Regions from separate parts of the Homo sapiens genome. Here regions 1 and 2 are each linked to region 3. Evidence: fine-mapped expression QTL. A gene starts in region 3. Each other region holds a variant in brackets. All regions are shown on one strand. Distances are between the middles of the regions.

Region 1 (11,246 bases), 35 kb after region 3:
TCAGTTACCCTGTGTTCTCGATTCAAGCTGCTGTCCTTCCTAATGCTTTCTCGCAAACTGTGTCGCCGGCGAATCAGAATCTCCTTGGCTTGTCTCTCACTTGTGTCGGCTGTCAGACTGTGTCTGTTGTAGGATAAAGTCTGGAATGAAAACATATAGAGGACATTAAAAAACAAAAACAAAAACCTGATCATTTCCCCCAGAAATTCCAAGACTTTACCACATTTCTTTGGATCTGCACCTCAGCTAAGCACTTATAACTTCTGTGCAGAGCAAAAAATTAAATTAACAGTATAAAAGTTAACAGTCTTCAGATCTTCAAAGAATTTATATTTTCTTTTCATTTTGTGTTTTTTTATTTTTCTTTTTTTTAGAGTTGGGGTCTTGATCTGTCACTCAGGCTGGAATGCAGTGGCACTCATAACTCACTGCAGCCTCCAACTCCTGGGCTCAAGCAACTTTCCCACCTCAGCCTTCCAAGTTGTTATTACAGGTATGTGCCACATAGTTCATCCTTTAATAAAAGTCAGATCATAAGGTTTGTTTTTCATTGAAAAGTGTGATTTTCATAAATGAGAACAATGATTGATTTCATCAAGTGCCATGTCTACCTTGAAGCCTCTTGTAGGTATTTAGCCATCATGAATATCTGGAAATAAAATACAAGCCACCATCCTACAGTCTGTTTTGAATAGGAATTACTGACATTAAAAACAAACCACTTTGAGCCACTTGGTGGTGCCATGCCCTTCTGATTAACTTCAGCACATTCCCTTTTTTCAACTGGGTTGTTACATGAAGAGAGCTGGTGACACTCCCCACAATGATTACATCCCAGTGTTTGAAAAGTAAAATTTCTAAACTAGGGCTGTACATGGAATCCACTTTTAGTTTTATAGGCTATATAGAAATGTGTTTCCTAAATCATAAATAATAATTAAATTCATTTCTGATAGAATAAACATGTACTTCTTGGGAATATCCCTGTGTCCAGAAATATATTAGGTTCTATTGAGAGATGCAAACATAACACAGAACAAGGCTTCATTCCTGCCTTGAGCAGTTTACCATCTCACTGAGCATCTAAGGCTAACAAAATTATGCAAAATCATGGAAATAAGTGCTGTATCTACATGGTACAGTATAAGCTCCAAGTGCTATTCCATTTAACCACAAGGATGGGAATAATATGGTGGCTGTTGGGGGAGCCTTAAAAACTGGAGGCTTTTGACCAGCTGACAGGAAGGTGTGAGATGCTCCCAGGGGACAGCGAGAAAGCTACCTGGGCCAAAGAACGAAAACAGAACCTCTCACTCCCTGGGTGTTTCAGGGAGCAGATGGGTGAGGCAGATGTGGAAATATGGTTGGATAAAGTGGAACTTGGAAATAGAGTCCAAATTTTCAACGAATAGTTTAGCTTGGGAGCCACAACTAATGTTTTGTTTCATTTTAAATTAAAAGGTACTGTAGGAAAAAGGGTCAGGTAAGAGTCACGTGGATGAAATGGGGACACCTTATGGGGACACCAGCTAAGAAGCTGCTGAAACAGCCCCCACATGAGCAAGGAGGACTCCTGACAAGCTGTGTGGCCCGTGTGCCACTTCACCTCCCTGTGCCTCAATTTCTTTATCTGTGAAATGGCGACAACAGTAACACCTACCACTCACTGGAGGATTAAATGAGTTAATGCATGCAACACACTGAAATGGGGCTTGGAAAATTGAGGACACTCTCTACTCTGTAGCTGTGTTGTTAGCAAATTATTAGAATAAGGTGCTAACAATGGAAACGAAGTGAAAGAAGTGGCTCAGAAGAGAAGAAACTATAGCACTTTATAAATAACAAGGAGGGTGAGGTCCATTTTTAAAGTCTAAGCTATAAAACTATTTCTTTAAAACAAACAGCAATCAATTCATTTCTTTAAAATTAGTCAACGTGTATTTCTTTGTATCCAAGCCCACAGCAGCAGAACTCCCAGGGGACCCCAAGGCTTCAGCCATGGTGTCCAGGAGGATAGTAGGACCCTGAAGAGGGATGGAGAGAAGCAGAAGGAGAGAAGATGCCCAGCATGGGACCTGCTGAGCCCAGTGTCAAGATGCAGCCTCCAGTTACAGCACAAAACCAGAAGGCATCCTGTTAGCCAAAGGTAAGTAAATATTTTGCTACATAAATTATTCTTACTCGCTGACGGATTTGATAGAGATTTCTTGATAAGAGTTCTCGAATTTCATCAGTTTCACTGGACGTGACCTTCCTTATTTTTTCTTCACGACAATCACTGTGAAAGTTTAGAAAAAGAATATTTTACCTTTCAACAAATATTAGAATCATTGATTTTCTTCCTTAGAGATATAAGTATTTAAGACAAGTCTTAATTTGTAAAAATAGCACTTAGGGATTATTCAATAACTTAAAATAATTCCAAATTCTGTGACTCTTATTTCAGTTTCAAAATCATTCATGGCAAGTTTAACAATTCACAAGTTTTCAGAATCTATTCATGTCATTATGTTTTCAGGGAAGAAAAACTACAATGGCTTATAATGCTACCTCACTTTATTATTTCTAACACTCCATAAATAAAGTAAAATAGAATAGTTTTCTCCAACAGAAACCTAATTGACTTCAATTTACCATTAAGTTTTCATATTTTAAAAACCTCATCATAAATATTTGCAAACACACCATTTATAACATGTATGTATATCCAGTCAATCCTCATTTGTGGGTTCCATAATCATGAACTCACCTCACCTACTTGCTAATATTGATTTATAAACCCAATATCAGAATTTCAGTATTTTTGCAGTTATTCTCAGACATATGGAGAGTGACAAAAAATTTGAGTCACTTGACACAGTTTCCCTGAAGATGTTGAACAAGGAGACATCTGCTTTCTTGTTTCCACTCTCATACTATAAATAATGTCCTTCTCACAGTCTATTTAGTGACATGATTTTTTAATATTTTTATGTTATTTATTGGTGGTTCTGCTGCTTTAAATGGCCCCCAGGCATTGCTGAAGTGCTGTCTAGAGTTCCCAAGCACAAGAACCCTGTGATGTGCCTTATGGAGAAAATTTGTTAACTAAGCTTGATCATACATGAATTTATAGTGTTCTTGACCATCAATTCAATGTTAATGAATTAGCAATATATATTAAATAAGGTGTCTGTAAACATAAACATACATAAAATAGGTTACATATTGATTGGCTGATGAAAATTTTGTGACCACAGGCTCAAAGGAACCTAACCTTTATGTCCCCATAGAAAAATGATTCAGTATTTGCAGCTGGGCACAGTGGCTCATGCCTGTAATCCCAGCACTCTGGGAGGCCGAGGGGGGCGGATCAATTAATAATAATTTTTTTAAAATTATTATTACCAGTTTCAAAATACTATCAATGCCTATTTAACAATACTAACTTTTATTTGCAAGACCATACTTACTTTAGAGATGCAAATGTAGGGACAGTACTTATCATCCCAGTCTCTGCCATCTCAATGGCATGTTTTATTTCAAGCTTTTTATATAAAGATACAATACTTGACTTTGGTTGGTTTTCCCGAATCAAAAGCTTCCGCAGATATTTATCATCAAACTTCTTAAACCTGTAAATAAAGAAACTTTCAATAAATTAATACTGGATTGACTAAGAAAATAGTTGTTGTTTTTACCAATGAAGTCATTTCTGCCATTCCCAGGAAAATACTTAGTAGCAGCATTTAGCTAATCTGGTCATTTTATATATTTAGTATGTGCCTACCTGTATATATGTATATGTGTATGTGTATATATGTATATATGTGTATGCGTATGTATATGTATGTGTATGTATACATATGTATATATACATACACATACACATATATGTATATATGACACATACTGCTACATTTTTGTATATGACCCTGATGCACATAAATCTAGTATTCATTAATTACAGATTAAAATACATGTTTCTGTCTTTACCATTTCTCTACTTCTGCTTTTAGCGAAATTGCTCAGAAACGTTATCACTGTTTGTTTTCCCCAATTCCTCTCCTCTGATTCTCTCTTGAACATTCACATTGCCTCAATACTCCATTAAAGCTACTCTTATCAAAGTGGTCTGTGAACCTCATGATATAACTGCAGTGGGCAATTATGAATCCTCATCTTTCCTGCCCTCACTTGTGTAAACTATTGTCTTCATTTGGCTTCCAGGACACCACCCTGGGGTACCCCAACCTCCTTCTCACCCTCCCTCTCAGTTTTGTTTTCTTCTTTTGACCTGTTAATGTAGGAGTGCTCTGGGCCTCGGTTCTTAATCCTCTTTCATACCGCCACTCACTCCCGTCACCATCTTGCCCAGTCTCCTAGCTTTTAATAGCATCTCTATGCCAATGACCCCCAGATTTGTATCTCCAGCTCCAACCTCTCGGCCAAACCCCAGATATGAGCTTTTGGCTACTTACTCAACATCTGCAGTTGGATATCTATGGGGCATCCCAAATTTAACATATTCAAACTGAACTGATATTCTGCCAGAGTCCTCCCATCTCAGCAAACGATGACTCCACCAGGTCAAAAATCCTGGTGTCATCCTGGATTCTTCTACTTTTCTCATGTTCTATGTTATGGGCTGAATTGTGTCCCGCCAAAAATTCATATGTTAAAGTCTAATCCCCAGTAGCTCAGACTATGACCACATTTGAAGATCTAGTGTTTACAGAAGTGATTAAGTTGAGGCCATCAAAATGGGCCCAAATCCAAAATGACTGGTGTACTTATAAAAAGAAGAGGTTTGGATTCCAAAACATACAGAGAGAGGGAAGATGATGTGAAGAGGCAGGGAGAAGACAGCCATCTACAAGCCAAGCAGAGGGGCGTAGAACAGAACCTTCCCTCGTGGCCCTCAGAAGAAATGAGCCCTGCTGACACCTTGCTGTCTGACTTCTAGCCCCCAGGATTATGAGACAATTCATTTCTGTTGAGCCACTCAATCTGTGGTACTTTGGTTATGGCAGCCCTAGCAGACTAGTACTCCAAATCTTTGCGCCATCAGCAATTTCTGTTGGTTCCACATCAAAATACATACAAAATCCAGCCATCTCCCACCTCATCTAATGCTATCACCCAGGTCCAAGACATCATTCTCTCTCGGATTCTTGTAGTGAGCACCAAATTGGCATTCCTGCTTCCACCATTGCATTCCTACAGAAGCCCAAGTGCTCCCGTTAAAAATATGTCTAATGATGTAACTGTCCTGCATCTTCCTTGGGTACAAGTACAATGGTCTGTGACTTCCTACACAATCTGGATCTGGCCCTCTTGGTACTGTGCCCCTCTTCCTTAGCTGCAGCGTCACTGGTGTCCTTCCTATCTTAAAGACTTACCAGCAGTGCTCCCATGTCTGAGTCTTTATACTTACTATTCCTTCTACTAGGAATCCTTTTCCCCCAGATACCTTCAGGGCTCACTTTTTACACTTCTTTTAAGTCTTTCCTTGACAATCATTTTCTCACAAGTGCCCTTCCTATCCATCCTGTTAGAATTGCACACAACCTTCCTCCCCCAGCAGTCCCCATCTCGCTGCCCAGATGTATTTTTCCCCATAGTAGTTATCACTTTCTAGCATGACATACAATTTACTTGTCTTACTTTCTGTCTCCTAGCACAGAATGTAAGGTCTACATGGGCAGAGATTTTTTTTTCTGTGTCACCAGTGCCTGGCACACTGTAAGCACGTGTGGTAGAATGAATCATTTGGTCCCAAGTCCTCCCTGTATCCACACCCTCTGCCATATTACTTGGCAATGACCTTCCATCATGGCA[C/T]AGATGACTTGCTTTGCCCTGTTCCTTGCCAGCGTGCTCAATAATGTTCCTTGCTTTGGTCAGTGGGCTATTAGCAGACACAATGAAAGAAACAGTGGCTTAACCTGGGCTTGCACATGGAGGCTTACCTCTTGTGCTTCAACAATCACTATTAGAAGGATATGCAGAGTGGCTCCTTAGTCCGAGGACAAAGGTGACTGTCACATGGAGCAGAGTCACCTCACTCCAATCACACCAGATAGATCTAGCCAGAATCAGCTGGCAGCCAGCCAACCCACTGGAGCACATGAACAAGCCTGGCCCCAACTGGCCAAGCCCAACCCCAATCAGCCTCTTGACTCATGCACTTTAATAATAATGACGTGTTCTGAGCAGCTGAGTTTTGGGGATGGTTTGTTATACAACATTATTATGCCAATACATAAGTGAAGCAGCATGCAATAAATATTTGTTGAGAAAGAAATAAGTGTACTACGTGATCACCACAAGCCCAAGGAGGTTTATAGACACACCTGTGCCGTGGAAGGAATCGATGTTAACCTACATTCTTGTTGATAGTCCTTTGTTCTAAATACTAGAGGGCTCTGAATAATTAAAGAAGAGCCATCCTGAATGTGCTTGGTTTTTGGCTGGCCACTACACTAAGGACTGGGTTTACTTTTCTCTACTTTTAATTGGAGTTTTATGTTAGGCCCATTGGACCAGGACTCCTGACAGCAACACATCTTTTAAAACTTCTTTTATTATTATTGTTGTTTTAGCTTTTCACTAGAGAGAGTAAAAGGAAGAACAAGCACCAAGAACAATGGCATCTGCTCTATTTCGTGTAGGGATAGTGCGTTTTCCTTGCTTCATTTCCACACCTTTCATTTCTCTGCTAAGCTACACATAGGCATTCTATTTCACCATCATTAGACTGCTTGTGCCAAGAGTGAGAAGGGTCCCTACTGTATCACCCTTCGTTTCATTCTCAAAGGATCAAATGCCTCAAGAATTCTCTGGCAGAACCACTGGAAATCCACAGCATAAGGATTCCAGAGAAAAGGGAAGACACCCAACATGCCTGAAACAATCGCTTCTTTTTGATGCTGATTTTTAGTAACATTAACAATCACCAAGGATGTGATCTCAGCAGAACACAGTTTTAAGAAGTCTTGTGTCAGCACCACATCCCCCCGCACCCACTTCCCTGCTCTACCTGTGATATACAGCATCTATGATGTCTATGACACTGTATATCATAGGTAGAGCAGGGAAGTAGGTGCGGGGGGATGTGGTGCTGAAACTTTGAAATTTTCCTGGAAAAAAAGTTGTGCGTGGAAATATATCAATACTTACAAAATTATTAAAATAAGTGTATCCACTGCAGTGGCAAATGCTAGCCATGTAACATTACCTTTCAGGCATGGAGCAAGGTTGGCTCTCCCATCTTTAGGACTTACAGCCAATTAATCTGGCAGCCTTTGGATGTGTGCTTAGGGCAGATTCATGGACTCCAGAGATAATGTCTCTGCCTGAAAGACAGACGTAGCCAGACTTTCTCTGACATTTCTTCTCCTGAGTTCCAGGCCAAACCCAAGTGACCACAGCATCTACCTCTTCTGACAGTGCCCCAGGACCAGGTGGCCTCATTACTGTGTGAGGCCGATCTATATTCCCCCATTTGGGAGGCAGAGGAGCACTAGATATCTTGAACCTAACACTCACTTTGGAAGGGGAACCAGCTGTTCTGGGTTACGCCTCTCATATGTCATTTCAGAAAAGTACTGAGGGGATGCTAGGGAAAGGGAGGATAGTAGTTGAGTTGAAAGGAACAAGGTAGGCAGAAAATAGGCATTACTATGAAAACAGTGGAGAAGAGAGGCAAAAAGTTCTGTTCTACTGGCTTAGCACAGATGGGGACTCCCTCATGCTAGGAATGTCCCAGAGTCATAGGGTAGATGTATAGGATCTCTGGTCTACCACCTGCCTCCAGAAAAGGGAATACTTCCCCTGAGAAATGGCCATTTAAAAAATAGTTTTACAATGGAGAATATAATTTGCTTAATTTTATTACCTTGTGTTCCCATGTAGCTAATTGGGCGTGCTCTCCATACAAACAAAATCTTTTTCCTTTCATTATATGGTAAGGCTGAGTCCCAGGGCCCTGTCTACAGTAGTAAACAGTGTTGTAAAGCTTGTAAAGGTTGTTCTAGCACTGAATGTCTTTGTCACTCATTATATTCCCTAATGGTCTCTCTCTCACACACCCATATATACACACACACAGGAGTCTGCTTGCTGTGTGACGGTTTTGTTGTGTCTGTGATACTACAGAATTTCAGAGGCCTGAGTCTATGGCTTATACTTCTTATGTAGCCCAATATTATGCCAGCATATATGAGCAAACAGGAAACACTAAAAAATTCCCTTGTGTTAAGTTGCAGACATTGGTAGGTTGGTCAATTTCATGTAAATTAGCAGTGGAGGGAAAAAAAATTCTGTTAGCAAGTTAGGAAAAATAAAACAAGAGGGATCTACCAAATATAGTTTAAAACGTGTTCTTCTGTCTTCAGGGATTAGCTTAAATGCTGCCTTCCAAAGTCTCGCCTAGCCAGTGATATGCTAATAAATGTTTAACAAATTTCTCTATGAAAAAAAAGGGCCTTGATTTGTAGCATTTGTCAGTTCCATGATATAAGCCCTGATTCAAGCAACCACTCTGGACAGTGCCAAATGTGCAGTCAGGAAGAGAGGTACGTGATGAGCTCCCACTAGCAAGTGGGGGCTGGCTCCTGTACCCCACTGCTCCTAGCTCTGCTGTCAGAATTGAACCAAATTTCTTGACCCATAATGCTGTTTCTCAGTTTATATTAAAGCATACATCTAATTCTGCCTGTCTGGTCTACCTTTTCCACTTCAACTTTAAGATCCTTGAAGACCAGTATTGAATTGTATTTATCCAACACAGAGCCTTTTACAGAATGGTAAACTCTGTGTGCCTGTAGGTATGTGCATTTATATAAATGTATGTAATTTTTCAGATAATTTTAGCTTTTTATATATATATTATATATATATATAATATATATATAATATATATATAATATATATTATATATATATACACGTTATTTCTGCTCATCTGTTTACATCCTTAGATGGTCTGAATCTCTGCATTTGACAAAGTCTCCCACCATGTGTGGCAAAATGGATAGTAATGGAAGCCCTAGTTTTCAGCCAAATAGATTGCATTCCTCAGCCTGCTTTGCAGACAGGAATGGCCATAGGACTGAGTCCAAGCCAATGATCAGAAGAATCATATGGCAGCTTCTGATGGTTTCAGTTAGAAGGCAGCTATTAATAACACATATGCTTTGTCTACTCATCATCTTTCATCCTTCTTGCTGCCTCTAATGGCTAATATTGATGCAGCCATTGTGGTTCAAGAGGCAACCTTGGAAATGAAGGCTACTCTTAGTGGATCGACTAGACAGACAGTCCTCGGACCCTGGGGGAGTCTTGGAGTAAACCTCATCTGTTAAACCTAAATTGCCTATCTCTGGCTATTTACAGAAGAGGGAAATAAGCTTTTACCTTGTTTAAGCTACTATTATTCCACATCTCTGTTATAGCTGAACTTTATCTTAGAGGACATACTATGGTACAACACAGGAAAGATTTCCAATTAAAAAATAATACAAATCAGTAAGTCCTGCTTTCAGAATGACCCTGGGCCACTTCATAACCCAATGGCATAAGACCTTCTTACTTGTCTCTCCAAAAGTTGTGACCCCAATGTCCACAAACATCTTCAATTCCAGTCTTCACATGATCAAACAACTAAAACAGAAAAAGCAGGCAAATTGATTAGTCTTTACCTGAAATCAATAATTTTCACTCTACTTGTATCATTTCTAAACTCCAAAGACCTTCATGGCTTTTGCTTCTTATTTGTTTATTATTTATTACCAAAAGCAATAAAACAGTTCATTTTCAAACAAACTGATGAAGTGTTTGTCACATCAGTATTAGGTAAGTCTTCGATTATTTTGCTCACCTATAAGTTTGTTAATAATTTTGAAAAGTATGAAATATGGTAATAATTTCCCAGTAGGAACATTTCCAGGCTAAAGGAAGTAAGAAGAGGGGACTTCTTGTCTCTCTACTCATGCAGGAGTTTAGTAAGCTAACCTGGAGAAGTTACCGTGGGGCCATATCTATTCTATACTCCCCCAGCAAATACCTTCTTCAGGCCCTCCTCCCTCTCACCCTGCCATTCCCTTCTTCTTCAGGAAATGGACAACGTGGTACCAAGCTGTTTGACTGATTCAAATATTTTTCCTTTATCATTAAAATTATTACACTCTCTTAACACCTACCCGACAATAGATTTCTTCACTGACAGCTTGTTGTTTCTTATTGGACCTCTTGACATCAAGAAACTCCACCAGTGGTCGAATAGTTATTCCCTGAACAGGAAACACAATTTAAGCATTTCATATATATTTATACAATTTATAAATTGTTTAATATAAAAATTTTAATATAAATTTTTTATAAACTACATTTTAATATTCAAGGGTAACTTCTCCTAAGCTTTGATAAGTAATGACAAAAGATATTTGGCTACCAAGATTTAACACAGTAAATGTAACTTTTTGTTAATTTTTCTTTCTTTTCAAATAGCTGGCATATTTTAAAAGGACCATGTCCTAACAAAAACAAAGACAAAATGGAAGAAGCAGAGAAAGTAATTACACAAAATAATAAAGTAGGCCAGATGCAGTGGGTTATGTCTGTAATCCCAGCACTTTGGGAGGCCGAGGTGGACAGATCACTTGGGGCCAGGAGTTCAAGATCAGCCTGGGCAACATAGTGAAACACCCTCTCTATCAAAATAATAATAATAGTAATAATAATAAAGTATTATCCAGTTCAGAGGAATCACCTACTTGTTGTATTATCCATAGAAAACTTATCAATGACTCCTTCATTTGTTCATTTATTAAAACGATTTTCACTGAGTTTCTACTGCACACATATCAGGGTCTTGGGCATTTGGAACCCAATGGTGAATAGTTAAGGACCTGGGTTCTAGGACTTTGCAGTCTTATACAAAGTCAGATACTTCCGAAAACAGTTACAAAGTAAGCAGAAGAGGGATGACAGGGCTAGCACAGGAAGCAGGTCAAGGAAAGCTTGGAGCAGAGGAGACACTGGTGGGCAGTGGTGGAGATGCTGGAAGCATATCCCAGTGGAGACCACAGCACAGCAAAGCACCGCAGTGAGAGGGGGCTTGCGGCCAGTCTGGGCACGTTCATGAGTGAACTCCGGAAATGTGGAGAACTATCAGCTCTTCAGTAAACTAGGAGGAGAAAAATTCCTTAATGTGACAAAGACATATGCCAGAAATCAATAGTGAACATATCACTTAAAAATGAAACA
Region 2 (6,484 bases), 22 kb after region 3:
AAGACACTTCTATAAGGTATTTAGAAATCTATCAGGAGTGAGAATCAGTCCAGTCAGAAAATTTTAGGCATTTGGGCAACTGCATTCAGAAAACAGCTATTTATTTGGAATGCATAATAAAAGCCATGAGACTGAATCTCCATGCCTCTTTGCCCCCTAGTAGCCTTCAAGAAGTCTCTAAAACAGGGTTACCACAGATTTAGCCAGGATGATGTGTAGCAGCTTTTCTTGGAACAGGTTGATGGATTAAAATAACTTTTTTTCAGCTCTAATGTTTTTTTCTTGAATTTGCCAGTCACATGATAATTTTCTTCAAAAATAAAACTTTATAATTGTAATGAGGAACTGTCATTTATTCTTATAAGTTGTATTTTTAGAAGTCACTGATGTGTCTTGCTACATATTTCAATTCAGGATCCAGAAGTGCTTTGAAAAATGTCATCTCCAGTATGCTAGAACACATCTTAATATTAAAAACAAGGCTTTGGCTTTTAAAACCATTATGCAGATACCAAATATATATGTAATCTGACATTTATACTGAAGGCCAGTAAGTAGAGGACAGTTGATCCTTGAACAACACAGGGGTTAGGAGTGCCAAGCCCCCAAAACGGTAGAAAATTTGAGTGTAACTTTTGACTCTCTAAAAATTTACTACTAATAGCTTACTGTTGACATGAAGCCCTACCAACAATATTAATAGTCGACTGACATGTATTTTGTGTGTTACATATATACTGTATTTTTACAATGAAGTAAGCTAGAGAAAAAATGTTAAGAAAAAGAAAAATAATATTATTAAGTGGAAATGGAATCATAAGGGTCTTCATCCTTGCCACCTTCATTTTGAGTAGGCTGAGGGGGAGGAGGAGAAGAAGGGATTGATCTTGCTGTCTTAGGGGTGGCAGAGATGGAAGAAAATCCCCGTTTAAGTGGACCTGTATAGTTCAACTCTGTGTTGCTGAAGGGTCAACTGTACTTTTAAGGTAACATCTCACAGTAGGATTTATTTCTAGTTAAGCAGATGCACAAATACTTAGATCTCTCATTTTTCCCAAACAGGTATCTAAACACCATTTTATAGATAGCTGTCTACTAAAACAATAAAAGCAAAACTTCTGTTTTCCTGTTTCAGTATATTATAAGAAACGTTTATTTATGAGATGGAGTCTCACTCTGTTGCTCAGGCTGGAGTGCAATGGCACAATCTTGGCTCACTGCAACCTCTGCTTCCGGGTTCAAGCAATTCTCCTGCCTCAGCCTCCCGAGTTGCTGGGACTACAGGCACGCGCCACCACGCCCAGATAATTTTTGTATTTTTAGTAGAGACAGGGTTTCACTATGTTAGCCAGGCTGGTCTCAAACCCCTGACCTCAGGCGATCCGCCCACCTCTGCCTCCCAGAGTGCTAGGATTACAGGCGTGAGCAACGGTGCCTGGCCACTGATTCTTATTTTTAAAAGTGACTTAACACAGCTTGTATTGTTCCTTCCAGGGAGAAGATAATTATAAACATTAAGGAAGGAGTGTTAATTATTGCTGATAACTTACACAGCGTAAGAATGAACTGTAAGGATCTTGTTTGAACAAAGAATTGTATTTTGATCAGTCTTTATACTACATCTTGATACAGTTCTTTTTTCTAAGCATCCACTGTAGAGGAAGAAAGTGGTTAAAATACCTATTAATGATTGCAACTTATAACATGGATAGGAGACAGTCTTCCTTCAAGCTTACCAAAGAATCTCCATGCCATTTTGAGTAGTTGAGACACAGCCTCTTATCCAGACAGAACTAGTTTTTTGTGTGATAGCTTACCTACCTAAACCTGTCCCAAGTTTGCTTAATGAAATTGAAACCACATGAAATATCCAAAGCAAACCTAATAAAGGTGTTCTGCCGCTGACTCGGGCTGGACCCTTGTGGGGCTGTATGTATGCGACTTGGTAGGTGTTTGCCTTAAGTAGTCTGTTCTGTGGGGCTGAAGCATAGGCCTGGCCATCTCAAAGCCTAACATCTGTCAGGCCCAGTCTGTGACGTCACTGACAAGGGTGAGCATTTTCTTTGGGGCACCTTCAAAGTACCTTCACTGTGCATCTCTTTGGAGTGAATAGCACTGAAAGCATGATGAACTGTTACTGCCATTCAAAATAACTTTCTAGCTAAAGGTCAGGACTTAAACTAAAGGTTCAATAGTAAGACATAGTTATGGTAGCAAATCTATTATTTATTAATCAGATGCCAAACTATGTATTCATGGAAACCTAAAATTTGATGTGTTAATACACATCTTTGCATAATCTTTAAAAATTATTAAGGCAATAATTGGAATTAACTTCTTTTCTTTACGTTTGCATGGGAAGGCCGTATTTAATATTTAAAAGCATACACCATTTTTGAGCCCTTTTGCAGAGCCTTTTTAGATATAAAAATTAATGCACCAATTAAAATGTTTATTCCTCTAATCACGTTCTATTACACTGTAATAGAGTTAGCCTAGTCTGAGATATATGTATTTGGAATTAATAGAATTGAAATTTTCAATACTCTGAAGCTCTTACCTTTGAAGAATTCTAGCCATCACAATCCCATTCAACATAAATGAGAGTGGTTTCATACACAAATACAAAAACTGGGACTGTTCTGTTTTCATGTATGTACTATTTTCTCCATAAGTGATTAAAGGTTTACATGTGATTTAATATTTAAACTTTGGTAAGATTTTTCATAGAAACAAGGAAAAATTTCCTTTGTCCGTGTACATATACAAAATTTGTTTGGTAAGCAGGGTTATCCTAAGTGGATACAAAGAGCTTCATCTAAATTAGAAATTTAGTCTCCAGTCATACTTATGACTCAGCAGGAGCCAATAAAATAAAAAAGGATTAAAATGTCTGAATTTTTAATTCAAGATGTTTTGTTCCAGAAATCAGAAAAATCACAGCCTCTGTATCTGGTATTCTGTCTGCTGGGCATCTCATGGAGTGACATTTCCGTACCCTCCAGTAGGAGAACAACAGATTCCCATACAACCTCTGCACATACTGAAAGTTCTTGACGTATGTTCTGAGCCATCAAAATAATCTCTATGCTGTGTAGATTGAAAAGTTGATAATAATCCATTCACAGTAGACAGGTTAACTCTACACCTAGAAAAACTCATTTCCTGACCATGCGATTAAGAGAACAAAACTACGATTTATTAGCTATACATAGTAAAATATGATTTTATCTGAAAAGGTGCAGGAAGTTTAAAAAGGAAAAAGGATCAAAAA[T/AT]GATGTGCCAGCGTGACACTGAAGTGGTCTGCAAAGTCCCCATCTGCATATTTGACCTGCACGCCCCAGGGTGGCTGATCCCTGTCTGAGGGTGTCAGCTAGACGCAGAGTGGATGATGCTGGTGGATTCTAAAGGAAGGTGTCATCTGTCAGGGACAAGGAGCCATGGTTATGCCACACAGCTGGTACCCAAAGGGGACTTCTGCTTTCCTTAGAAGAGGGTTGAAGAAAGGGTTGGTTAAAAAGTGAGATAAAAAGTAGCAGTGCGCCACACACTTTAACCTTGTGTGTTCTGAGCCACGAGTGTTATTTTTCAGATTGATGAGAGAATCAGCACGTGGTGTTCAAGCCTCAGCGGATAATGCCAACAGCTGCTTCATCCGGACAAAGTGATCTCTTTAATCACGTTTTTAAGAAGAAAGTACAGTGTGCACTTTGACAAAAATATTGCAGATTATGAAACGTGACTTTTAACATAAAAACAATTTGGGCAGTACAATAAATGCAAAACGTGCTGAGACTCGTACTGTGTTTGTCTACAGTTTTTATGTAAATCAATACCCTCACCGCCCAGATAAAACAGTACACCCCACCATAAAGCTGAGCAAAAGCTGAAAGAAATCTCTTCACAGACATTTTGTGAGCATATACACAAAACACATGCTTTTAAAAGTATTAGACTTTGAAGCCAATTTCTAGTTTGCTCATTGACATAACTGTTCCCAACAGTCTCCTCTCAGCATTACATATAAAGTAATAAACCCCGACTTTTCATTTATAGGTAGTTCAAATCAAATTTTGTTACAACCAACACCAAAGACCTATCAAAGATCCACAGTCACATTGGAACTTTGGTTGGATCAAGTGTTGTTTGGACGAACGAAAGCCTTTACAAAGGGCTACGGCTCTCTCTACTACAGAAATTTAGATTGTGACAATATTTAGATTGTGAAAATATTTAGTCAATACTCTCATAATGACTAGTGACTAGAATTTAAGAATTACAAAAAGAGGAAAGTATAGAAAAAAAGCTAAAGTCAAATTTATTTTTATTGCCTTTGTCATTCAACAAACAAAAAAAATTTAAACTGATAATAATTAAGATTTAAGTTTTCCTTTATACATAGTCATCCAAATTCTGTATGGATGAATTACTGAAAGCGGAATTTGGTCTACCTGCTTAACAAGAAGCAATATAAACATTTTCATGTTTTCTCCTTCAGTTCCAGAAAGTTAAACTCTTTATAATAGTTATAAACATAGGAAACTGGGAAAAATTAGGAAATTTATTCTTTAAGGTCACTTTCAATTTCTGTTGCTTTTCAGATTTCATACTGTAGCTTTTCTGAAACCTGATTTTTGGCATTCTCAAAAATCTACATCACATTTCTTGAATCATGTTATTATCATAAAATTTTATGTCAGTTTTAATTTGTGTTAAGCAGAATAAATGTATTTTTATATAAATATTTTCATTTAAAATAGAGATTTTTGGCACAGAGTCCTAAGCCTGTAGTTTTCAAATTGCATTCTGTGCTACTTTCCCTGAATCAAGGAATTGTGCTCCTATGAACTTGTACCTTGTGTATCTAACCTTTGCTCTGTCTCATGCTCAACAATCCAGCAGTATTCTAAGACTTTAGAACATGAGAAAAAAGTGTAGATTGACTTCTCCTTGCTGGTGGAGGTGGAGAAGGGGTGGAGAACAACTGCTGAGGATTTTTGTCTTAATATTTTCATGTTCTCCTCCTGATAATACTGTAGGCACTTGCATCCTTTGGGGTATCTTCAGTGGGAAATCAAAGGACTGTGAGTGGCTTCATTTAATTTCTACACTCAGAAATGCAGAGGCATGTTCCAGTCAAGTTTTAAAGAATTATTTAGAAAAAAAAAACAGGCCAATAAAATCTACAGTTAAGAGATAGAGAATCAAATATTAATCTTGAATGCTTATGTTCCACTTCTTTTCTTTCTGCTGTACTTTTAAAAAGTACTCTAATGAGTAGAATTCAATTTTATATGAAAATTCTGAGTTACTATATTATCGAATGGGGAGAGGTAACAAATTACAGACTAGTGCAAAACAGTAGGACTCCCACATTCTCCAAAGTGCTTCCTGAATAATATTCAAAACTTGATATCTCATCAACTTGTGCAATGTTAGAATATTGTGTCTACAAACTTTCTTCTTTGTCTGCTTGGAGCCTCTAACCTGGAGGCTCAAAATTCAAACAACACTCTACAGAAAAATTCTACTGAAGCAGGTGATCATAGATCAGCATAGATCACCTGCCTCCTCCTCCTAGTATTGCACAACATAAAACCCACCAGCAAGTTGTAACCAGGTGCTGCCCTGTGGCCCTACTTGCCACATGGACCCTCATGGGTGGAACTTCATCAAAAGCTGCTCCCAAATCTGTCAACACAGTAAGCTGGTGGATGTCTGGGCAACCTTTCTCTCTGCACCATTTAAACAAGAAGAAGAAATGGAATTTAGATGTCACCCCCAAACACACAGTAGACAGAGGAACAAGTTAAAAACCAGTAGACTCTCAGTAGTTCATAGGAGTTCTGGGGCCTCCAATCTGCACTGCAGGAGTCAGGCCATTCCTTCTGCATGACGTTCCGATTGTTTGCCCAGTTTGAGTCATAAGGTGTCTCTGCTTCCAGCTGTGCTCTTCACTTACCGGCTGCTCCATCGGGTCAGGACAGGGAAAAGCTTCCACGCTGAGCTTAGGAGTCACCCCCGAGCGCCATCCTTCACCCCTGGGAAAGAAAGCTGTTCTCGATACTTTTAGTGCCATTCACTTAACAACTGATTACAGATATACATATTTTTTCATAAATAAAATTTGAAGCATATAAGTAATATATTAAAATCTTCACCAAGAAGGATGTGTTAAAAATTTCAAGTTCTGTCATTCAAGTTCAATAAAGGCACACATTACCATTTTTTCTCTTCAGGCCAGCAAATAATACGATTGCTACCCATTAGTCACAAAAGGTATTTTGTGGGACTATTTTTTATTCGATTTTCCTTTTCTTCGGATTTGCCTCATTTATCCGTGGCATGAATCTGTCGCCCTCCAGAAGTATTTAGATGCACAGAGAGTTTTACATGGATTCCACTGTTGCATCAGGTTTCAGAGTGACAAACCACAGCTGTCCTGGGTCAGACACTCAGATCTGCTTTCGCTGCTTCTCTTAAGG
Region 3 (11,125 bases):
ACACTGGGGACTACAATTCGACATGAGGTTTCTTGGGGACACAGATCCAAACCATGTCAGCAGTGGACCCATATGAACGCTATACATCAAAATTGAGGAACACTGAGCTTGGGGTATTCATCATTGGTAGGCTTTCTGTTTATTTCATTCCCAGGGATGCTATAATCAATTAGCCATAGTCAAAGATCCCTGCAGGTCAAGGCATTCTGGTGACTGGTACACTCCTGCTGACCTTAAAAGTAAATGTGTCCACCTTGTCTTCTGAGTTTAAGTGCTATGACCTGGCCTCTGATAATCTGGAAATCTTTTCCTCATATAATCAGAGAGCTTATCTTAAAGGTGGTATCCTCTATGGCTATACCTGGCCTACAAAAGAGAGCAATCGCAAATCTTTTCAAAACTGCAAGTGCATCTCTCACTAATACATTCCTCAGTGCCTTAGTGCAGGAAGTGTCGTCTTGGCCTCTTCGTGGAATATATTTGAGTATTAGGCTTGCAAGTCATACATAATAAATCCACTCTGACATTGTCATTTTTCCAAAACTTTTGGAGTCCTTTATCCACATTTTGCCAGGAAAACTCTGGCATCTGAACATCATTAAATATAGGCCATCTTTGAGTCTAAATTTCAACCAACTGACTAAACTACTAGAGCTGCCTCCAGCTGCACAAGCTAACATATTACATCGGTATATGTTGTAAATGCATCTATACTAGTGAATTCTGCCTAATTTAGTGTTATATTATTCCCTTTTTTTGTCTGACACCCTTAGAAATCTCTCCCCCAGGTTTCTAAAGTTTACATTGATTATATATTAGCAGAGACTTCCAAATCTTTTATTATTATTATTTTTACACAGAGTCTCCCTCTGTTGCCAGGCTGGAGTGCAGTGGGGCGATCTCAGCTCACTGCAACCTCTGCCTCCCGGGTTCAAGCTCTCCTGCCTCAGCCTCCCAAGTAGCTGGGACTACAGGCGCGCACCACCACGCCCAGCTAAATTTTTTGTATTTTTAGTAGAGACAGGGTTTCACCATGTTGGCCAGGATAGTCTCGATCTCTTGACCTTGTGATCTGCCCACCCTGGCTTCCCAAAGTCCTGGGATTACAGGTGTGAGCCACCGCGCCTGGCCGTGACTTCCAATTCTTTTGGCGTGTATGAGATGTCCTCCTAGGTTATAATGTGTACCTGTCACCAGAGCATGCTAAAATTTCACCCTAGCTATGTATTTAGTAGCCACAGTGAGTGGTTTTAATGGGTTAACATGAGCAGCCCTTTCAAGGCGCCTTTCCCAGATGAGTTACTCACAAAATTTCAAGCACAAAAAGACTAGTTTCCTCAGCTATAGGAGAGCAAACTAGTTCTCCTGCAAAGGAGTCTCAGAATAACTTGGGGGTTCACGATTGACAGTTTCACCTGGATTCAATTATATGTCTTAATTCTAAGTATCAGTATTCCACTTCTCCCTATTCAGTGCCACCTCCCATGAGAAACTTTGCAACACTGAATTTAACAGATCTCAGAATTAGCAACCTACACAAGTAAATTGAGATTTTGAGCAAAATCTCAGTAAAATGTCAGAGTCTTCTTGATCCCACAGTGAAAGAGGAATAAATAACAAGTTCTAAAGAAAAGAGGGGCTAGTCACTATTGTTAACATTTATTACTTACCATGTGTCATGGGCTTTGCTAAGTAATTTAAAGGCATCTTTTGGTGTCATGCACTCACTTAATTCCTTTCACTGCACTCAGAATAAACCCCAAATCTCTGTTATGGCCTTCTGGGTCCTAAATGGTCTGCACTCCTGCTGACCTCTCAGTTTGATGAGGAAGTTTCAGCCACACATATCTTCTTTCCACTCTTCTCAGCTTACATGTCACCTCCTCCAAACTGCTTTTCTAAAGTAGCTCACTCCCCACCTCATTACTTTCCACATCAAGACCGTGCTTCTTTATATTATCACCATATTATTTTACTTATTTTATGCTTTTTCATTGCATGTTTAGTATTTTTATTTATGTTTATTTACTGCGTGCTTATTATTTTTACTCCATGAGACTGTAATCTCAACTCAGGCATAGACCATCTATGGTTTGTTCACATTGCACTGCACCAGAAAGGATCTTAAGAAGCATGTGTAGAATTCTCACACCTCTAGAAGTTGGACTACATTATTTCCTACTGCTTTTTAAATAGGCAAACGAAAGCTTGGAGAGCCACGTTAACGTATCCTAGGTCTGTCACAACCAACTGGTGGCCAGGGTCTGTGGATCTTCAAGCTGGAGTTGGTCACCTCCTAGCACAACTCCATAGGAGGAAGTGAAGCTCAATACAATTCCCTCCTGTCCTCCAACGATAGGGGCAGCAGGGTCTGTACCCAGAGGAAACAAAGAGCATCATCATTATCATCACAAACTGGTGTGTGCTTACCGTATTGATGATGTGCCCAGTCCCCACCTTGCCTGAGACCAGAACTCCCAGCCAGCACCGGCCACGCACCCGCGGAGCTGCCAGGTAGCACCCGCCCCCTCTCTCTGCGCAGGCGCGCGCCTCCTGCTTCCGCTCGGGGCGGGGCTGGGCTCCCGGGGTAGGTCCGCGGCTGCTGCTGCGTCCGACCCCCGGCCGGCGCGGGTATGGAGCTTGGGGGTCACTGGGACATGAACTCGGCCCCGAGGCTGGTCTCGGAGACCGCAGAGCGGAAACAGGAGCAGAAGACAGGAACCGAGGCGGAGGCTGCCGACTCCGGTGCCGTCGGAGCCCGCCGCTTCCTGCTCTGTCTCTACTTGGTGGGCTTCTTGGTGAGTGCGAGCGTGGGGGCTGGGAGCAAGTGCTGACTGTGTTCGGGCCTGGGGACCCAGGCGGTTCTTGGAGCTTCCGGGGAGCTCCCAGGGAGTGGGAACCCGCAGTCCGCCTGGTGAGTGCCTCACTACCTATCAAGCTCTCCTCTTGCCCTATCACCCACTTCAGTCTGCATCTGGCCACACTGCTTTATTGCCCCTCGCGCTTTCTCTTGCACCCCGTTCGCGGAACGTCTTCCCTTCCCTGCCTTTTGAGAAGCCCTGGTACCAACCTCAGGTGTGACCAGGTGTTAAATGCTGTGGCAGGTGCAGCTTTTGCAGGGCGGAGAACAGGGGTGTGGGCAAGCTTGGAAAAGCCCAGCTGCTGTGCGGCTGCTGGTGAGGTAGGGACACGCAAGCCTTTTTACCAGAACAGGCAGGGGAGGCCGCTCTTGACCCCGCTTGGACAGATTTAGGCACATTTTCACTAGGATTCTTGGTTGACTTAAATATTAAAAAATGCAGATCAGAGTGAATTTTACCCATCTGCCTTTCGACAAACTGCGCATTGCACAGCGTAGGTTTGGTTTCATCATGATGTGTGTGCCTGTGGTTTGCTTTTTTACCAGACCAGGCTGGAGAAGCCGCTGTTGATGACCCCACTTGTACAGAATTGGGTGCATTTTCACTAGAGCTCTCGGTTGACTTGAATGTTTAAAAATGCAGATCAGAGTGAATTGTACCCATCTACCTTTGGACAAAGGGTGTGCATTGCACAATGGCGGTTTGGTTTCATCGTGTGTGTGTGTGTGTGTGTGTGCGCGCGCGCGTGTCCTGGTTTGCTCCCTGAGTGCTAATTTCCCACGTAGAATGGAAAGTTTAGTAAGCTGATTCATGGCATTTCTGAACACCTGCCATGTGGCAGGTGCTGCGGAGCTTCACTATTGTAATCCACAGTTCTGCCACAGAAGAATTCAGTCTTACAAGTAAGCTGATGTTGGTAGTTTCTGGGCCATTATCTGCAAGAACCCTAGATCCACCTCTGCACTCCTCCCTTTCCAAGGCTAGGCCTGATTCAGCCCTGAGTGTGAGCTAATCCAGTATCTTGAGGGTAAGGAAGCTGCGATAAGTGTCAATGGGAGAAGGCTGCCTTTGAGGCCTTGAAGATAGTATCTGATGGCACTGGGCCCTGGCAGGGAGTCATCGTTTTCTGCCCAGATGCAGATCAAGACCACCACTTCTCCCAGTTTCATGCACTCTCCATGCCACCACCTCCATGCAAGGCGTTCAGTTGGTAGCAACTCTATGTTGAGTTAATAGTTAAGATCACCATGAAAGCATGTTCATCAAATTGCTGCAAGCCCAGAAACACAAGGTCTTCAGGGAGGGCGGCTTTTTAGAGAGGATTTCTCTGCCTCTAGGCCATTGCAGGATCCACCCTCCAGCTCCATGCCTTTAACTTCAGAGACTGGCACTCCTTCTGACCACTATTCCTTTAATCTAGTAGTTCATTCTCAGCATGGGGATGCTTCTTCTACTTTTCAGTCTAGGCACCTAGAATTCACAACCAGTGAGTATGGGTGGTTCTTGGAGAGGAGTTGGCTGACATCCAGCCTTTTTAGTTATGGGTCCCAAGCTACTGCTGTCCTGTCTCAGAAGGGACTTGGGCTGGTTCAGCCAGATGAAAACATTTGAGCCCTTACCTGGAAAGTCCAGACTAGGGTTCAGAGAATTTGACTTAGAATTCAAAGTAGTTTTAGTATTAGAATAAAACAAAGCAATTCGCAGATCATTTGTTAAGGTCAGCCTTCCAATACAGATTTGAATATTCACAATTTATCATATGTTTTCTTTATGCTGTGTATTTGGCAAGTCTAATCTAGCAAGCCTGATACAGAATTTTAATAACTTTAATAATGTATTCAAGAGAACCATTAGGTGTCTCATATCTTAAGGGAAAAGTTTATGGTTTCCCAAAAGTTGAAAGAGTAGGGATTTTTTTAATGGAAAATATTGTAAACAATTAAATATATGAAGCTTTACATGAAAGTCACATAAAGCTACCTAACAGATGATTGTTAGGTAACATCTAAGGAACATTATACATAATTTAGTTTTTTTTTGACATATTTAGGGATGTAGAGACCTCTAAGATTCTTGGACAAATGGTTTCTGAATGGGAGAGGAAGGGAACAAGCTTAGAGAAGTCATTTGCCAAATTGTTCTGTTTTAGCAGTTATCCGTACTTCCAAGTTTTAATTTGTTTAGGAGGGAAGACCAAGATGACCCTTGAGGCCCGTTTTGTTTAGGATGCTTAGATGGTGATGAGATCTATTATTTCAACCACTTTTTTCCTCCAGATACTTGGTGAGATTTGTTTTCCATCCCATCAGCTTTATTCAGGTGATAATTCATTTTCATTGAGATAGTCCAGTAATCAATAATTACTGGGGTTCCTACCCTGAAAAGAGTCTTGAAACTTTTGAGTGTACATATTCATCAATTTTTATTGAAAAATGTTGATATTCAGTGAAAGTTTAAGTGGCCCCTTCTGACATGATCTTTTTACAAGTGGTTACATGCACATGACCAGATGCCAAATGCAGCGATTTTGAAGAAGCTATGGATTGAGAAGCAGAAAGGAGTTGCCTTTTATAGTAAAGGAGAAGGCAATTTTAGAACAGAACTTCCTGAGAGGAAAGATTCAGTGGCCAGTCTCCTTGGAAGAATATAGTACTTTTCAGACTCACCAAGTGCTAAAGTAATACCAATCATCAGTTATTGCCTTTGAGTCTGTATTTTCATACTTACCTTCCATAGAGCTCAGTCTCTTGACCTAAATATTTCTCTCCATCTCTTATTTAGGATACCCATTTTATTAAATGATATGTTGTACTGGGACTTTTTTTTTTTGGAAAAAAATGGTTATTGGACAATTGAGTTTCCTTTTCTGAAAGATCCAGAAGATTCAATAGGTGGCTGGTACATTTTGAGTCTTTTAAATGTGTAAACATCAGTGGGCTGATGAGATGCAACTGACAGCAAAGCCCAAAAGAAATGGACTCAGACCCAAAGGAAATTTTAAGTAATGGCAATATTGAAATAATAAACCATCACTCTGGTAATGTAATTTTAAGAGCTAATTATAGTCACTTGATATTAGATAACAGGGTCATCTAAAGATGTAACCATGGAAAAGGCCCACTGAAAAGAGTATGTGGAAATTTATGTATCTATAGTTATATGAATGTACAGCTACCAGGACAGGGAAGGGGGAACAAAAGATTAACTCTGAGCTCAAGGAAAATACATATTTCATGCGAGTTCTTTCTTTCCAACTAACCAGCTGTATGAAAGAAGGAATTCAGGTCGAATATAATGAAAACTGTGTGTGTGCAATGTTTTTTCTCCCACTAAACCAACTGTAGCAGGTAACCTAGTGAGAATAAGAACAAAATTAAAAGAAAAGTTAACAGTCTGTCTATTAACTCAGAATACCTAGCAAAAAGGACCTGTCCTTATCCCCAGAACTGAAGAAGGGAGAAGACATGTTTGAGCTTACATTGTTTTATTAGGCCTTTCTCAAGCATTATGCCACTTAATGCTCATCATATTTCTACCAGGCAGGTATTACTGTTCTACCCTTTGCAGATGACAGCACGGAAGCTTGGTAACTTTAAGTAGCTTTCCAAAGACACATGTTTAGTAAGTGATGGAGGTGGAATTGAGAACTGTCTGCCTGACCCCAAAGCCCATTCACTTTCTATGACTTAGCTGCAAAACACTGGCCTTTCCCTAGTGCACCAGCTTCTTCCTTCTTGCTTTACTGAGCCTTTCTTCTCAGGTATTATTTTATAAGCTTATAAACTACAGGTCCTAGGACATTAGCCACTTTCGCCAACTCCAGAAGGAAACATATTTTTAAGCAAGTGCTGGTTCACCAATAAATACAAATTATGACTGCATTTTTTCTTATGACTTATCCACAGAAAATATGGGGTTTTTTGTCTGTTTTGTTTGAGGAACTTCTGTAGCATATCCTCCTTGAGTGTAAAGTTAAAACGGATCCCAGGTCAGACTAATCCAGGCATTTGCAAGTGGCAGCGGATTTGTATGGCATGCTATGGAATCCAATTATGATTTCTTACGTGTTTAAAATTTTAGATATTGGTTTTATTTTTTAAATTAGTTTAAATTTTTAGGTTTACTAGTTTGAAAAATACTAATTTGAGTCCATCAGCATTTATTTTGTTTTAGGATTTGTTTGGTGTCAGCATGGTTGTGCCTTTATTGAGCCTTCATGTCAAGTCCCTTGGAGCAAGTCCAACAGTTGCTGGAATAGTAGGTGAGTGGTCGATATTGCTCATTTTTAGAGCACTGAATTTTAAATCCTCTGAACCAAGTACCTGAAAACAATTCAATTTTGTATCCAAATATTATCCAAAGGTAAGTGGGAAATGAGATAAAACAAATTTCCAGAATATTTTAAAATATTACCCTATAGCAAATGCAATTCCTTTTTTTCTAGACGACGTATGTTCAAAGAGATTTTGAGATTTGAGCACTATAACCAAGTCCCATGCCACTAGTGGCAACAGGTACTTATGGAGCCTCTGCAAGGAGCTGGCTGTGTGTATAAAAGGGTAGGTACATGTGGACTCCTGCCTACAGGAACCCTTAACCTAATGTGAGAGACCAGGGAAACATAATCTACAGAAATCACATCTCGTGGGAAAGGGTTTCGGTGAACATTAGCCAATTAGTTGCAAGCTTCTCACACCGTCACCAACACATCATAGATATTGTAGAGTTTCTCTGCCTGTGCAGCTTAAAAATTCCATCCAGAAGTCATTGATTTACCAAAAAGGCAAGAGACAGCAGGGCTTAGGACTATGCTAACTAATGGGAAATTGTTGAGACTAACAGCTCTTGATCATTCACAAGCCAAACAAGCAAGTGTTTGTGGACAGTCTTGTACATAATATTTGTTAAATCATGGTCCATGCCGTGATTTGTATTTCCCTCGACAAATGTACTTGGAATTACACTGGACCACCCAGCAGTGTGAAGGTTTTTGGGAAAATCAGATAGGGCACATTGCATGATAATGGAGGTAAAAGAGCTCTGTAAAAAAAATATAAATTCTTTATAAAATAAATCATTTTATAAAACCAGTACACATTAGAAATATAAGAGACAATGTTAAGATTTTAAGGCTTAGTAGGGTTTTTCCAGAATTTAAATTTCTATTCCCCTGAGTACTCTCTATGCTGTTTCATAAGTTGAAGCTACACAATCTCATATGATGGAAGGACAATCATACAGCGTCCATAACGTCACCTTTTGCCTTTTTTCTCTCTTCTGTTTACCCTCAATTTTTTGAAAACCTTTTGTTAGAAATTGTATTACTTCCATTTTGTTAGAAATTGTATTACTTCCATTTTTCCAAGTAGAAAAAAAAAAGATGTGAGATAATTTAAAACAAAAAGGTATCTTACCCTAATGTTTTTCTGTTGGTTTCTGTGTAATTGTTATCACATTAATCCATTTTTGTGATAGCTCTAGCTGATTTTATTGTTATTGATTTGTTTTTTACAGGCTCCTCCTATGGCATTTTGCAACTCTTTTCTAGCACATTGGTGGTAAGTTATGATCACATGTCTCATCCATCACAGATGTAGTAAAATTGGGGACTTGAAGTTTATCAAAAAGTGATAGATTTGGGATGAGAACACCTTTAAATTGTAATATGTTCTTCCTACAATTCCCTGCTTTTTACAGACAAAAAGAATGTAAACAAAAGTTATTATCAATTTTAGGCTGGGCGCGGTGGCTCACGCCTGTAATCCCAACACTTTGGGAGGCTGAGGCGGGTGGATCACGAGGTCAGGAGATCGAGACCATCCTGGCTAATACGGTGAAACCCCGTCTCTACTAAAAAAAAAGATACAAAAAAATTAGCCAGGCATGGTGGCAGGCACCTGTAGTCCCAGCTACTCGGGAGGCTGAGGCAGGAGAATGGTGTGAAGCCGGGAGGCGGAGTTTGCAGTGAGCCGAGATCGCACCACTGCACTCCAGCCTGGACGACAGAGCGAGACTCTGTCTCAAAAAAAAAAAAAAATGTTATTACCAATTTTATTATTTATTACACTTCATTGACAGTAATCAAATCCATTTATATTTCTGCTATTCTATTTAAAGTTGTGTATTTTGAACTAAATAAAAGCTTTTTTATAAGACTTAAGTGTATAGACAGAAGGGGACATTTGGATTGGCTGATTGTATATGTGCAGCATGGAGTAGAAAGATCCAGAGGTGGCCAGGCATGGTGGCTGGCATCTGCAGTCCCAGCTACTCAGGAGGCTAAGGTTGGAGGATCGCTTGAGCCCAGGAATTCAAGTCTAGCCTGGGCAACATAGGAAGGAAGACCCTGTTTCTAAGAAATCAAAAAAAAGAAACACAGATTCAGTGGCGACCTTGTCAGTGCCCTACTTCTGACCACTCAGTTGTTTGAATTTCAGAGACCTTACCTGATGTCCCCTTCTCTCTCCCTGTAATGTCTACTGTGATCACTCTGGTCTGGAGACCTCAGCGTCCAGTGGTTCAGGCGGTTCAGTAGAATAGTCTATTTAGTCTCACAATTGATCAGTAGTGACTTTGGTCTCAATAGCTGGCCTGGGGGTCTCATATTTAATGAACACAAAGTGTACTTATGTTTCCCAAGAGTTGCTTCCTTGTAAAATATATTTTTAAAAGAAATTCAGTCAGATTCCATAATAAATTCTTAAATAAGTAAACAGCTACTTCCTGATTTATTGAAGTATTTCATATATTAGATTTCCATTACAATAATAGTTTTAGCCTCATTTAAACTTTATAGTAACCCAGCAAAGTAGTTTGGTATCTTTCTTTTATATAGGAGGAAATTAAGACCAATTAAGACCCACATAGGTTAATTTGACTAAGCTACCTAATTTCAGTATTTAGACTCTAAGCCCATATTATTTTTTTTCTAAGAGTCATCTGTCATTGCCTTAATGATATAAAATGGTAAATAGGTAACTAGAGTTATCAGATTGTACAGGAGAGCAGTGCACTTGCTTGTCAAGCAGAATGTCGTATTTCATGTTCTTTCTTGTGAGAGAAAAGTTTGAGTTACATCTTAGTAAACACCTTTTCTCTTTATTTGTAAACTCACTCCCAAAATATCTGATGTGTGTATCTGTTAGAGCTATTAGGTCACAGTGTATGTTAATTCTTTTAATGTTTTCTCTTCCTGGACTCTGGTCTTCCTGAGATACAGACCAGGCTTACTTGCTTAATTTTTTTATACTCTTACTTATCAGAGTACCTGGCAATAGTTAGCACTTTATAAATGTAAATTTTTATTGCTAACTATGACTCTACCCTTTTTTTCAGATTTTCCTTTGTTGTTTTATGTTTGTACTTACACAGAACATTTCATATGTCTTTTAGCTGAAATTTAATGAAAACCTTTCTTAGAAAGCCTTAAGATACAGAAATTCCTAGTTAAAATTTCCTTTTTAACCCATACTTCTGTAAGCACATATTTTAATTATAAATTTTACCAAAAAACTTTTAATTTTGAGAACAAATCTTTATACAGAAAAAGTATATTCTGTCAGATTTGGCTAATGTTTTTAAATAAATGTATTTTAATAAAAAATGATCCACTTATTAAGTACCTATGTGTCAGCCCCTGTTTTGAGAACTTTATTTCCTCTAATCCTTATAATAACCAGCCTCAAAGGGTGGTTATGGGTCTTTAATGACTCATTTTATATTAAGCACACAGAAAGTGTTGAGTGGGGAAAATAATCTCTGAGGCAGATATTATTCTTGTTTTACAGGTAGAGAGACTGAGGCATAGAGAGGTTAGCTCATATGTCCGAGGTCATGGTGGAAGGAATGATGAGTTCAGCGTTGAGCCCAAACAGCCAGGCTTAGGGCCAGGGTGTAAATCCCAGATTATACCACTGCCCTGTGAGTACAAGGAGGCCAGTAACCCTTTCCCCAGATCAAAAGAGTATGGGGAATTTCTAAAATTCATTGAAATGAAAATTGGGGAGTAGGATTGAAGACACCTATAGAAGGATGACAGTATTTTGGAAGGTTTACCTTAAAAATATTTTATAGAGGAAGTTTACATCATTATGTAAAGGGATCTTTCGGCCCCTTAAGAAAAAGATAAACATATCAATAAAAATGGGGAGAGGGCATGAACAGCTACACTTGGCAATTGGCATGCAGTAGTGGCCTGTGAGATTCCTTCCATGGTTAGTGGAGAGGGTGAGGAATGGTTGTGGAACATCACTGAGGAAGGAGGG

What was found. PIP is the estimated chance that this variant, and not a neighbour inherited with it, causes the effect.
Region 1: its variant is fine-mapped to the expression of SLC67A2 in whole blood (INTERVAL, PIP 0.95).
Region 2: its variant is fine-mapped to the expression of SLC67A2 in blood mononuclear cells (TOPMed, PIP 0.97).

Annotation. Positions count from the first base shown.
Region 1 is chr2:102,693,438-102,704,683 of GRCh38, reverse strand. SLC9A2 (solute carrier family 9 member A2) reads right to left here. Exons shown (of 12, transcript NM_003048.6): 6 at 10,181-10,270; 7 at 9,571-9,641; 8 at 3,453-3,614; 9 at 2,182-2,278; 10 at 9-140. It overlaps LOC124905954 (a long non-coding RNA gene), which reads left to right. Exons shown (of 3, transcript XR_007087163.1): 2 at 375-493; 3 at 1,957-2,188. Among named protein-coding and RNA genes, the nearest start is that of SLC67A2, 38 kb to the left of the region's middle. The variant C/T (reference allele first, on the strand shown) is at 5,821.
Region 2 is chr2:102,708,484-102,714,967 of GRCh38, reverse strand. SLC9A2 (solute carrier family 9 member A2) reads right to left here. Exons shown (of 12, transcript NM_003048.6): 12 at 3,613-6,484. The coding sequence ends at 6,479. It overlaps SLC67A2 (solute carrier family 67 member 2), which reads left to right. Exons shown (of 6, transcript NM_032718.5): 6 at 1-338. Among named protein-coding and RNA genes, the nearest start is that of SLC67A2, 25 kb to the left of the region's middle. RefSeq lists an enhancer at 6,174-6,484. The variant T/AT (reference allele first, on the strand shown) is at 3,275.
Region 3 is chr2:102,728,319-102,739,443 of GRCh38, reverse strand. SLC67A2 (solute carrier family 67 member 2) reads left to right here and starts at 2,556. Exons shown (of 6, transcript NM_032718.5): 1 at 2,556-2,798; 2 at 7,035-7,122; 3 at 8,376-8,419. The coding sequence starts at 2,634. It also overlaps a transcript of TMEM182 not described here. RefSeq lists a silencer at 2,440-2,649.